3 separate regions of the Homo sapiens genome follow, and all the other regions are reported to be linked to region 1. The links are microRNA targets in miRTarBase. Many come from high-throughput screens and were not tested one by one. Region 1 holds a microRNA gene; each other region holds the end of a gene's coding sequence.
The links. The annotated mature microRNA hsa-miR-181b-5p reads AACAUUCAUUGCUGUCGGUGGGU and lies in region 1 at 2,834-2,856, shown strand. An mRNA with a match to its seed (bases 2 to 7 or 8) in the 3' UTR can be bound and repressed. Matches are read on the target gene's strand: a 7mer-m8 pairs with bases 2 to 8, a 7mer-A1 pairs with bases 2 to 7 and ends in A, and an 8mer does both.

Region 2: miRTarBase lists BPTF as a target of hsa-miR-181b-5p. Seed matches in the 3' UTR shown: 7mer-m8 at 2,747-2,753.
Region 3: miRTarBase lists CBX7 as a target of hsa-miR-181b-5p. Seed matches in the 3' UTR shown: 7mer-m8 at 1,963-1,969, 8mer at 1,373-1,380 and 8mer at 1,093-1,100.

What each region holds. Positions count from the first base shown.
Region 1 is chr1:198,857,423-198,861,780 of GRCh38, reverse strand. It overlaps MIR181B1 (microRNA 181b-1), which reads left to right and starts at 2,799; the gene lies at 2,799-2,908. The region is part of intron 2 of MIR181A1HG (MIR181A1 host gene); the gene reads left to right. It overlaps MIR181A1 (microRNA 181a-1), which reads left to right and starts at 2,628; the gene lies at 2,628-2,737.
Region 2 is chr17:67,981,921-67,985,920 of GRCh38, reverse strand. It overlaps BPTF (bromodomain PHD finger transcription factor), which reads right to left. Exons shown (of 28, transcript NM_182641.4): 28 at 1,543-3,669. The coding sequence ends at 3,633. Among named protein-coding and RNA genes, the nearest start is that of C17orf58, 13 kb to the left of the region's middle.
Region 3 is chr22:39,129,896-39,134,253 of GRCh38, forward strand. CBX7 (chromobox 7) reads right to left here. Exons shown (of 6, transcript NM_175709.5): 6 at 877-4,153. The coding sequence ends at 3,996. Among named protein-coding and RNA genes, the nearest start is that of CBX7, 21 kb to the right of the region's middle. RefSeq lists enhancers at 1,531-2,092, 3,732-4,358.

The DNA of each region.
Region 1 (4,358 bases):
CCCAAATCCCTATGGCTTTTTACTGAGGCACATTGCACTACTTTTTTATGTTCCTCTGTCAATTCATGTTAGGGTTTGCTTTGTTTAAAAGTGGTATTTCATGTATTTCGTGACCCTCTTGCACAAAGCAAAAAAATTGCTTTGGTTTATTTATGACCTACTAACCTTAAGCAAAACTGAAATACTTAATGTTCCCACAAGCCTAGGGATGAGAAATGAAAGCTACAATAAATTTGGCTTTGATGCAAATTAGATTGGTTTTATCCTACCCACACAGCCCTCCAAAATTAGGAAGAGGGGGATAAGAGAGTATTTATGCATTAATGACCTATTGCTTGTGACTTTTTTTCATTCAAGGAAAACTATGCAAGAATGCATATTGCTACCACCAACTTGGAATTCTGGAATTATGAACAATGTGTTCTAAAAAATTGCCAGAAAATGTGAAATCTCAGTACCATTGCATCTTAATATTTTAAAGATAAATGATTTATAACTAAGGATTAAGTTGTGAAAATAAAGATGGAAAAGATATAGGATTGGAAGGTACATGACAGTAATTGCAAGACCATATAAGTGAGCAGAAAACTAAATTGCACCAACAAGTAGAACGATTTTTCTGTATTGCTCGAAATAATTTAGAATATAGAGCCTAAAGTTTACTATCTTCTCTGACATTAGATTAATTGGAAGCAAGAACACAGAGATCCTATTTTCCATTGTGGAGGATTTAAACTGTTAAGATATGAGGTTTTATCTTTAACAAACTATGACTATGATTAGCCCAAGGAAAGAAAAAATAATTAATCACTTTATTTATCATTGCTATTTTATGTGTAAATAACAAGACATTTAATGTAACTTCTATTGTTTCAAGTGAATCATTATAAGATTTTTAAGAATTTTAATGTTAAATCAATTATAGTTAAGATTTTTATTCTAAGAATGTAACAACTTTAGGATTAAGTTAATTGTATTCTTCCAAAGACTTCTAGGAGAATATTTTGGAAAACAAAAGATAACATAGTTATGCCTTTTAATTATTTGTAACTGACCTAGAGCTTTGCTTACTGGTAGGCCAAATGCATTTTGTGTTAAGGGAAAATACAGAGCATGGAGTCTTTTATCACAACATCCCTATTATACAAACGTTAGCAGATGTAGCAAGAGATGAATAGGCATGATTGAAAACAGTTGTATATTGACCTGACACTAATACCACAATAGGCAGGCAACAGAACAGGAGTGATATGCTTTCAGTCGTAATTGATAATGCAAACAAATGAATCCTCAGTCTCATGATAATATTCTTTCCAGCAGCAACACAGAAATGCCTACTGATAAAGCATTCTTCTAGGGTTTTATTCTGTGGGAGAAATTTGCTTCTTTCAAAAGAATTAAACAATGCAAAATTCAGATACATCACTGTTTCATATTCTGTGCCTATTTGTCACTTTAAAATTTACTTCCAGTTGATCTCTAGTCCCTGTTTCTCTCAAAAAAAATCTGTTGAAGTTTTCATGTAAATAGTTTGTCTAAAAGGTTAAACAATTATTGGCTTTAAAATAATTCTAAGTGACTGAAATGTAAGAATGTGTAAAAATTTGGGATACATATTTCACTAACATTTCGAGAGTAATTGCCTTGACTTGAATAGACCATTATCACCTTCAAAGTAGCATTCCAAATTATTGTGGGTTGTCCCTCCTACAGATAATTACTCTATAACCATATTAGATGCAACTTAAATGTGTGAAATAATGACTTTCTATTCTGGTTTAGATACATCCAAGGTGACTTTTGTTTTAATTGATGGTAGAAAATTATTGAAAATGGCTCTAAAAATAAATTCAGTAGAGTTCATAATAATTTTAAAATAAGCATTAATGATAAAACAGTCTTAGAAAATAAGACTATGAAAAGAATCCCTCACCCATCTACCCATAAAGAGATGTTAGATGTTAGATGTTATTTAAAATAATAGGAAATGAACGGTTTTGTAGCATACATAGATTGTATTTACCTTTCACTGTATTCATGAACTCTTTGTGCCATAAACTAAGAAAAATGTATTGAGCTGGTTTCTTCACTTATAATTTGTTCAGCATTTTCTAAATAAGATTGTTCTTAGGAAGTTATACTAATTTTAAAACCTTATTTTAGAATAAAATATAGTAAATATATAATGTAAATATAAATGATATCATCAATGCCAATTTGAGGAAATCTAAGGTAATTCTGTTTAATTTCTGTATAAGCTATATACATAATGCTTGCTTACTATAAGCGTAACAATATTTAAATTATAAGATATTGTTTGGATTTTATACCACAAAGTACTTTGAATAACAAATTGTCCCTGTCTTTAACAGTGAGATAATTCCATCTCTGGAACTAGCCCAATATCGGCCATGTTTTTGCTTAATGAAACCGATCCTTTTCTCTCATACAATGTGATGTGGAGGTTTGCCAAACTCTTTGTTGGAAGAATCATGCTTCTTATTTGTCTTCTTTTGTAGTCTTTTGAAATGGCATAAAAATGCATAAAATATATGACTAAAGGTACTGTTGTTTCTGTCTCCCATCCCCTTCAGATACTTACAGATACTGTAAAGTGAGTAGAATTCTGAGTTTTGAGGTTGCTTCAGTGAACATTCAACGCTGTCGGTGAGTTTGGAATTAAAATCAAAACCATCGACCGTTGATTGTACCCTATGGCTAACCATCATCTACTCCATGGTGCTCAGAATTCGCTGAAGACAGGAAACCAAAGGTGGACACACCAGGACTTTCTCTTCCCTGTGCAGAGATTATTTTTTAAAAGGTCACAATCAACATTCATTGCTGTCGGTGGGTTGAACTGTGTGGACAAGCTCACTGAACAATGAATGCAACTGTGGCCCCGCTTTTTGCTGTCACAATCAACAGATATTCCATCTTTGAAAGATGTGTTCAAAATAGTACTATTGTTCTTTAAGTTTTCCAATTCGTCAGCATCTTCTGGTTTATTTATTCAATTTATATCATGTGATGAGATTTCAATGAAAAAGACTCTGGTTTAAACAAGAATAATGCTTCTCTATCTTTTGTATGCTATAAACAGAGCATGTTTTAGAAAAGGCAAAACTATTTTGTCCATCAAACGTACAGTATCATCATCTAGGTTAGCTCACCTTCCTACTGTTGTAGTGTGAGTGAAAAAAAGACATAAAGTAGGACCTCAGCACCCATGCCATTGACAATAACACACTTACAAATATGTGTTCTTTACAACTTTTGTTAGATGTTCTGGTCAAAGTGGGATAGAAACACCAGATAATTTTAGCTTTCTGCTTCTCTGGGTGAGGATTTGCTCATATAATTCTGCCTCTTGCTATGTAACATGCTAAATACGAAGAAAATAATATATACATAACTATATAACTATCAGAACACTCATGACAGTCATATAGTAGATTGATTTTCCCAATTCAATTTCCACTTTAAAACTTTACCCACTTTCTATGTGCATGAACTGCGTGGTTAGACTTACAGTCATGGCCCATTAATTGCCTCATGTTTACTCATCTGACTTTGCAAGTAAAAGCCTATGCATATCATGGTTTTTCTTAAGTGGTTTGCCTCTGCATTTTTATATAGGACATCTGTCATTAAATTTGATCACAGCAGTTTTAAGTTTACCATTTGTAATGATAATAATTATATAGCAAAATAAAATGCTTTCTCAAGTGTCTATGTTTGGAGTACCTGGATGGCTTCAATGTTCATTTTTTTTTAATGGTCAAATAAATTATCCTTTCTTTTCCTTGATCTTTTAAATCCCATTTGCCTTTAACTCCCATTACAGAAACCCATTGCTGGGACCCGGCTCTTGACCTCATCATAACCTTAAAATATTTTACCACATTCGATATCTAATATCCCACTCTGTCTATCACTTCTTACCATTCTAGTTTCTCATTCTCTTATCTCCAAGGCAACTGTCCTTTCAATATCAGTGTTGCTGAAAAATAAAATCACATCATCATATGGACACATTAATACACATACTCAGGGGCCTCCAAGTGCCTCAGTCCCTCAACTCTGACCCAGCATTTCTTCTACTCCACTCCCTCATGTTTAGCCTAAATGTTTACCTCTTTCCTCAACTGCTCCTTTCCACGATTCCACTCTCAACAGATGAACTGACTTCTGTTTTTCATTGAGAAGCTTGAGTCCATGTGATTATTCCCTCCACTTCCTTGTTTATAGCCTATGAATGCGTAGGATTCTGCCCTGAGTTGTCTCACGTGAGCCTCCTGCCTTGCTTGGGACATCTCTTCCCCTGTGATATCCCCCTCCTCTCTCACCATCTGGCT
Region 2 (4,000 bases), not on the chromosome of region 1:
TTTATCCATGAAATATCACCATTCTCACATTAAGGACAAGAAGTCTGAGACCTACGGTAATAGCTTCAATCATGAAGAGCGAAAGCTGTAATAACCATGTAGCTTTGTCTAAGTGTGCAGAGATCTGAAAGGCCACCAGGTTGGCTCTTTAACATAAAGCAGCAGAGAGTTTGCCTAAAGGAATTAACAGAAATAGGGAAGTAACTTTTATTTGCAGATCCTAGGAAGGTAGATTACAAACAACAGCAAATCTTAGTGTCTCTAAATAACACTCTAGGCCATTTGAAATATAAAAAGGTAATTATTTTCCTTCAGAAAATATCTCCAAAAGCTCACTTTTTTTGAGACGGAGTCTCGCTCTGTCACCCAGGCTGGAGCGTAGTGGCACAATCTCAGCTCACTGCAACCTCTGCCTCCCGGGTTCAAGCTGTCCTCCCACCTCAGCCTCCTGAGTAGCTGGAACTACCGGCGTGTGCCTCTTGTCCAGCTAAATTGTTGTATTTTTAGTAGAGACAGGGTTTCACCATGTTGGCCAGGCAGGTCTCTCCAACTCCTGACCTCAAGTGACCCACTTGCTTCAGTCTCCCAAAGTGCTGGGATTATAGGCGTGAGCCACCATGCCCAGCCACAATTTTATTTAAACCTCCTGCAGAATTTGGATAGGAGAATAAAAGCTTTACCAATAGGAAAATACTTTTCATGAAATGGTTTCAAGGATTGTGAACTTGGCAGGTAAAGTATAACAGGTACTGAAAATACTTTTAGCCAAGGAAATCTATTGATGCAAATTAAATGTATTTATAAGCCCAAGGCCTGGGGTAGAAACATCCTAAGAATATCACAAATGTACAGTTTACTGCCTGAATTATTGGAAGCAAAATAGCTGTATTATGTAGATCTTTCTGAATAGCAGAAGCTTGTCAAAGATTTCTGCTTGTCACAGAAAAGCAGCTTTTGGAATTCATTATGTTCTATAAGAATGTATGGTTTTCAGGCCAGGCGTGGTGGCTCATGTCTATAATCCCAGCACTTTGGGAGGCCGAGGCAGGCGGATCACCTGGGATCGGGAGTTCGAGACCAGCCTGACCAACATGGAGAAACCCTGTCTCTACTAAAAATACAAAATTAGCCAGGCGTGGTGGCGCATGCCTGTAATCCCAGTTACTTGGGAGGCTGAGGCAGGAGAATTGCTTGAACCCGGGAGGCAGAGGTTGTGGTGAGCCGAGATGGCATCATTGCACTCCAGACTGGGCAACAACAGTGAAACTCCATCTCAAAAAAAAAAAAAAAGAAGTATGTTTTTCAAAAATTACTTCTGAAGGACTAAAGCTCTGTAGTTGATGAAACTATAAAATGTCTATGTATTTGTATGGTGATAGAAACTATACAACACTTTATACCGTTAAATACACATATGAAATTAACATCTTCCTGGTTTCAGATTTCCATAAAATTTATCCTTTTTGTACAATTTGGCAAGGCTAACAGCTATAGAAAACATATTAACCAACCAACCATTGCTTCATTAGAAACTGCACCAAATCCAATGTCAAAAACATTACTTTATTTTTCTAGGATGAAATGTCCTATTACGTACAAAAGAATTGCTGTTTAGAATTTGCCACAATTTGTTAAAAACATAGCAATCTATTGCCTACAGGTAGGAAAGTTCTTGCTGCAACAAATTTTAAATGATTAAGCCCATATATATTTATATATATGAATAAATAGTACAGAAATACTGTGACGTGATGAGATGCAGAATAATTTTATAACTCATTAAAATGTAGAATTCTTGCATCAGCACAGTGCATACAATATGTAACATTTTTTAAAAAAGTAAAAGGACAAAATAACCCATATTTAACTACTTCCATCTTAATACTTTAAGCAAAAATTTTTTCATGTTTTCATATTGAGCGATTAGTCTTTAGTTTGTAAGCATAAGTTTAAGTGACATCTTTATGTACAAAAAGGAATGGGCTTCATTAGATAAAATTAACCCAGAATAACCTGTACACCTGAGCCTGTAATAAGAAAGAATCGGGAACTGTAGCAACATCTTTCTTTTAAGAAACTGAGGTCTGGGAAAGGTTTTGCATAGCAGGGAAACATTAAAAGGAAAGAAACTTTGAAAAACAATAATTAGATAAATTCCAGAAGTTGGTAGGACAAAGCTAATATGAGTTAGTGCAAAATCTAGTAAAAATTTTTGCAAAGCTGCATAATCCAACTATGGCAGATTTTATAGAAGCTATTACCACAATGCAGTGATACAACGTGTAAGAACACTGAAAGGAAAAACATGCAAAATACATCTTCCTCTGTGGTTTCCATTTTCTCGCTACTGTTTACACTACTTTTCCTTACGTGGAAGAAACAAACAAACCAACAAACAGAAAACAAACCCAATCAACAAATAACACAGAGGATGAGGTCATCTAAAAAATGCCCTTCATAAAATATAAGTAGCTGTGTGTAATTGGTAATTTGCCTGGTATCACAGAATGTACAGATGAAGGCAATGTGTATCTTGTCGCATTACCGTTCTCGTTAGTATGATCAACTGATGCAACAGGATTAGCACCCCTGAAGATTTTTCTCTGACGTGATGACAATGGACTGGGAATGATAAAACGAGGGGCCACTGCTGTCCTGGAGAAATCCAGGCACAATTAGACTCTTCTGCCTTTCATGACCTTGCAGGCCTCCCTCCCCACAAAGGCTTACAGATAATCATTAGCGCACATTCAAAGACACCTCTGTCTGTGGGAGAAAAATTATCTCCATTTATTTTGTTTCATATACATCCATAGTTGAATTTTAATACAAAAGAAAAAAATTAGAATCTGACAAATGTTTACAAACAAGATACCTTCAAATAGATTTTACTCATTTTAGCCTGGTGCAGAGTAATTGACAAATTGTACTGTTATATTCAAGGCAACAGAGTCTGTAGTCCAGGACCACTTAGCCCAACCTTTATGCAAGCTTAATTTTAATCTACCATGAACAATAAACTCATTGTTGATTCCCAGTTGTGTGTGTGTGCACATGTGTACATAGCAGCTCCTTTCATAGAAAGAAAAGACATCTAGAGGTCGTCTTGTACTTTTACCTACAGGAATCATGATAAGATACAGATGATTATATGTAACCGGGGCTGGATTTTATAAGAAAAAATAATTAGCTGACAAATGAGGGCAGCAATAAAAAAGCGTCTTTTTTGCAACAATAAATAAATACAGTCAAAAGTTTTCTGTGAGACTCTAAACCAGCTTCTTCACTGAAGAGCAGACGTGGCATTTCCATGGAGTTACACTTGACCCCATAGTATCTTTTTTTCTTGCTTTCTTTTTCTTTTTTTTTCAATAAACAAAGTTTTCTCGCTTCTGCCACAATAGTAAAACCATCTGATCTTGACAAGATAATGGTGTCGTTGACTTTGCTTTTTTCTTGTCCGTTGGACAAAATTGGCCAAGAATATAATTGGACTGTTATGACCAATAAAAACGAAGTTTAGGTCAAGTCTTGTCAGGATAGCCTGACTAAAAACATCTGGCTCCTTAATTTAAAATAGTTCAGACAACCAGATTCTTGCTGTGTTTTATGTTAGGTTAACACGCTGAACTTTAAGAAGCTGTAGACTGCAGTTTGTTGTTATGAGACCTACAGAATATAGAAAAAAGGGAACAATTAAGCACCCTTCATTTTTGAAAACAATGATGCTTTATGCGGATGCCAAGGTCAGTCAGTCTGGGAGAAGCAGCCATGTTCTTTCATTCACCCTTGGCAAGCGAATAGAAAAGAACGATTAAGAAAATTTTAACCTATAATATTAAAACTTTTCACTGTACACTAAACATAATAGCTCACTGGAAAAAGCCAATATTTAAATATATATATATATATATATATATATATATATATATATATTTGTCTAATAAAGATTACAACATTTTCAGCCAACTGGACAAATAGAGGCATTTACAGAAGCATT
Region 3 (4,358 bases), not on the chromosome of region 1:
CCAGCCTAGCCTCTGTCCTGCAGCCCATGATGCACTGAAATGCAGACGTGCTCCCAGGACTTGCCCTTGGCTCTGACCACCTGTCTCAACGTTCAGATGTGTGTGCTAAGCTTGGCTGAACACACAGTAGGTGAGCGTTAGCCCCATGACAGTCCTGCGATCCGGAATCTGCCGTTGCAGAGACCTGCGATGCTCACCCCTCCAAGGTTCTGGAATAAAGGACTCTTGGGGAGAAGCAGATAAAAGGTGCCAGAAGCACTTCCAGGCCTCTGATGACACACTACGGACCATGGTGATGGCCTCACCCAGAGACACCCGCAGTTTCCTGTTCCCGTCACCTCAGTGAATTCTCTGTCCATCTGGGGTCTCAGCGAAGGGAAAGACTTGTCCGAGATTATGGCCGGTGACCAGCAGACCTGGGACCTAAACCCCAGGCATTGCCAGGGGCTGAAGCTCTTTCTTCAGCACAGTGGGGACACCACTGTCTGGCCTCTGAGCTGCAGCTCAGCCATTGTAACCCCTGTGACCTGCACATATACATCCAGATGGCCTGCAGGTCCATTATGGCTTGTTCCTGCCCTGCCCCAACTGATCGACCTGGTGACCTTCTTCCGGACAATGAGTATTATGATCTCCCCAACAGGCACCTTGTGACCCCCTCCCCTGCTGACAATAGCTAACCACCTTTCACTGTAACTTTCCACTGCTTACCCCAGTCCTATAAAACTGCCCCACCCCTATCTCCCTTGGCTGACTCTTTTTGGACTCAGCCCACTTGCACCCAAGTGAAATAAACAGCCTTGTTGCTCGCACAAAGTCTGTTGGTGGACGGATGCACTTGACAACCACCAGAAGGAATAATCAAATGCCCAGGAATTTTCTTTTTTTTAAATCATCTTTAATGTATTTTTAATAATTTTTTTGCCTCATTTACCAGATAAATCATCTAAATAAATAGATGCTATACAGTCTCTTACCAATGTCAGTACAAAAATAAAACCGCGCTCTACATCCACTCTGACTCTCCCAGCACACACACACTCAGCAAAGGCATGTGCTTGGAATCAACTCGTGCCCCCGACCCCTCCCAGATACATTCATTTAGTCTGAACAAAGCTCGAAGCTCATTCTGTGCAAAGGAAGCGCTCTTGTGCTGAGACCTGGTGGCCGCAGCTGGCCACTTCGAAAGCAAAAGCTAAACCACCTCACAGAAGCACAGCGCCTGCCCCCAGAACAAGGGGACAGGAGGAGCTTGGCAACGAGGTCATCACCCGAACAGCAGTGACAGTCCTGCATTCCAGGCGGCTGTGCCAGGGGTGGGGGTACCTCCTCCGCACCCCCCACCACAAAAGGAAAAGTGCCCACGGGTCTCTACATTCAAAGCGGGTGGGGGCTGGGGGAAAGAAAGGCAGATGGGCAAATGCTTTCTAAACCCTCCCCCCACCCCCAAGAGTACTGGCCTTTTAAGAGGGCTGCGGGGGTGGAGGTCACTGTCTGCCTTGCTCTACTGGGCCACTCTGGGCTGGAAGGAGGCCTGCACGGCCACAGCCGTAGGTGACCTCATAGAGGTCACCTGTCCTGGAGGATGGTCCTAACGGCCCACAGCCTTTTCCCCCAGGGAGCTGGCTCACTACAGCCCATGAGCCACCTGGCTGCCCTGAGCTGGGCACCTCAGGCCCACCCGTCCCAGGTCACACCCCTGGAGTTCAGCTCTCCCTGAGCCACGGAGTTCCCCATGGGCCATAAAGGGCTGAGTAAGAGGAAAGATGTGTCCTGCTGCTGCAGACAAAAGCAACTGCAGCACCCACACAGAAAGCCCCGTGAATCCACAGACCCACAGATTGCGCAAATAGTTCTTTGAAAGTGACCAGGAAGCAGGAAAAAGGTCCTATGTCCCCTGGGGGATGGGGAGCGTGACTTCTGCTGGAAGCTGCCAGCCATGTTCCAAAGTCATGGGCCAAAACATTCAACTAGAGACCCCCCACAACCCTCTATCATCTTTACCTCCGCTGGGCACCCCTCTCCTGGAAGAGTCCCCTCTGAACCCCAAGCTTCCCCTTCCCCTCCACAGGGCTCCACAGCTGGAGATGGGTGGTGATTCCTGCCGCTCCTTGTCCAGACCCACCCCACGTATTCCTCTAGATTCCATTCCCTGGGCTGGAGGTGAATCAGGTCATCCCGGAGGGGACTGTCCCCCAATGGAAGCACTGAATTGACCGTGGACAACTAAAGATCGAGGAGGAAGGAAAGAGAGACTCAGGGATCTGGGAAGCCTGTCAACAGAGCACCCCATGCAGAAAGGGCTGCAGGCTGTCTTTGGTTTGGGAACCAGGGAAGAAGGGATTTGGGGAAAGAATCACCCTCTCCTTGCCTCAGTAGACTCTGTGACTTCCTGAGGACACAGAGCAGAGCTGCGAGGAGGGCGGGCAGGTCTCAAACTTGCTGGCCGCACTCCACTCTTGGTGTGTGTTACCCTGACTCTGACAGCCAAGGAAAGACAGGGGAGCCGGCCTTTTCCATGCTCCCCTTGGGCCCCCCAATCTGGTTTTGTCTCCCCTACAGGACTGGAAGAGAGGGAGAAGTCACTCCTCACTGGCAGGGAAGCCACGGGCCCCCAGGACACCTTGTACAAACCAGAAAACAAGTGCACCTTGCCAGGGGTGGGCTGGGGCAAAGCCTGCCCATCACACAGCACAGCCTGACCTCAGAGAGGCACGGCAGAGGTCCCTCCACAGGAATACAGCTCAGCCCCAGCTGTGGCATTTAGGTTGGATGGGGAGGGGATGCAGAATGGAAGGAGGAAGGGGCTTAGGAGTCAAGGGCTGCCCTGAGAACGTGGTGGGACACTCCCTCCCTCCCTGACTGCCCACACCTGGGTTGGCTGAGTTGGAGGGGAGGGCAGAAAAAGAGGGGAATTGGAAGGGCTGAAAAGTCACCTGAGTCAGAAAGAACAAGAACCCCTCACGGGAGGAAGGACAGGGTCCAGACGTCTCAAAGCCTGTGCTGATACATCACACAACTTAGCAGACGCCTGCACACCCGCAGCCTGGCCCGGTGCAGCCGAGAAACCACATCTGTATGCCTGGAGCATGGGGTGCCATCGCACCTGTGCCAGACCCCTGCCCTCCACTGAAAGCCGCAAGCAGGTAGCAAGGTGCATGCAAGGTGGGGTGAGTGCAGGTGTGGTGGTGAGGTCTTTTGTGCTGTGAATCACCCCACGTTCGCCTGGCCAGGGTTTCTAACCCAGGTTCGCAAGGCCCATGTGGACACGTCTGCAGCCACACATGCTTTCACGGGGCACATGGGAACGTACACGCGAAGGGTAATGCGTGCACACCTGTGCAGCCAGGTGTGCATGAGCGTTTCTGCACAGGCCAGGTGATGAGGGGAGGGCAGAGCTCTCAGCAGAAGGGTCTCAGCGGCGCCTCCTCCCTGGGAAGGATAGAAGCCTCTCTGAAGGGGAAGGGACTCGCCCCAAGTAACCTCAACCCTTCCTCCTGCCCCTTCCTCCCGCCCCACTCACTTTTGGTCAAAACCAGCCTCCACAGCCCACCGCAAAGCCAGAGAGGAGAGTTCAAGGTAAAGACCCAATTGAAACAAGAGAAAAGGGGAAAACCAGCCAACCAGGCTGGGGTGGCCACTCAAGGGAGAGGGTTTGGGCCTTCCAATGCTCCTTTAACTCCCAGAACCAGCTGCTGCGTCACTAGAGGAGAATGATAATGGTGGTGTCCCGGGCAGGTGATCCTGTCCCCATCCTGCCCTGGGGGTGGTACCCCAACTCCCAGAGCAACTCTCTCCATCCCCAGCCTGAGGCCTCGTGGTAAACGTCCCTCAGAGAAAGGGCAGGTGGTGGGAGAGTAGTGGGATCTTCTCCCCTTTTGCTGCTCGGTATTTTTTTAAATAAAATAATTACCCCGCCCCCAACCCATCCCTATCTCTGGAAGTCCCACCCCAAGCCCAAAAGAAAACAGTTTAAGAAGAGTAAAAACGGTGATTCAGAACTTCCCACTGCGGTCTCGGAAGAAGCCCTCAGCTGCCTGGGCCTCGCGGAAGGTGACGGTGATGGAGTTGGCGGTGATGTCGGTCACGGTCACCTCACTTGAGGGGAGCGCAGGTGTCCAGGGAGGGGGCCCCTCGGCCAGGTCGGCATCTGCTGCAGCGTCAGACACACAGATGGGGGCAGCGTTGACAAGGTGGGAAGCCATGCAGACCACCCAACCCGACCCCAACTCCAGCTCCTCCTCTCTGTGTCTTCAGTCAGCTCAGGGCCTCACACAGGGCTGGACACTTGGGAGGAGGGCACTGGGTGCATCCTCCCCACCTAGACAAGAGCTCAGCCAGAGCGGGACGACAGGAGG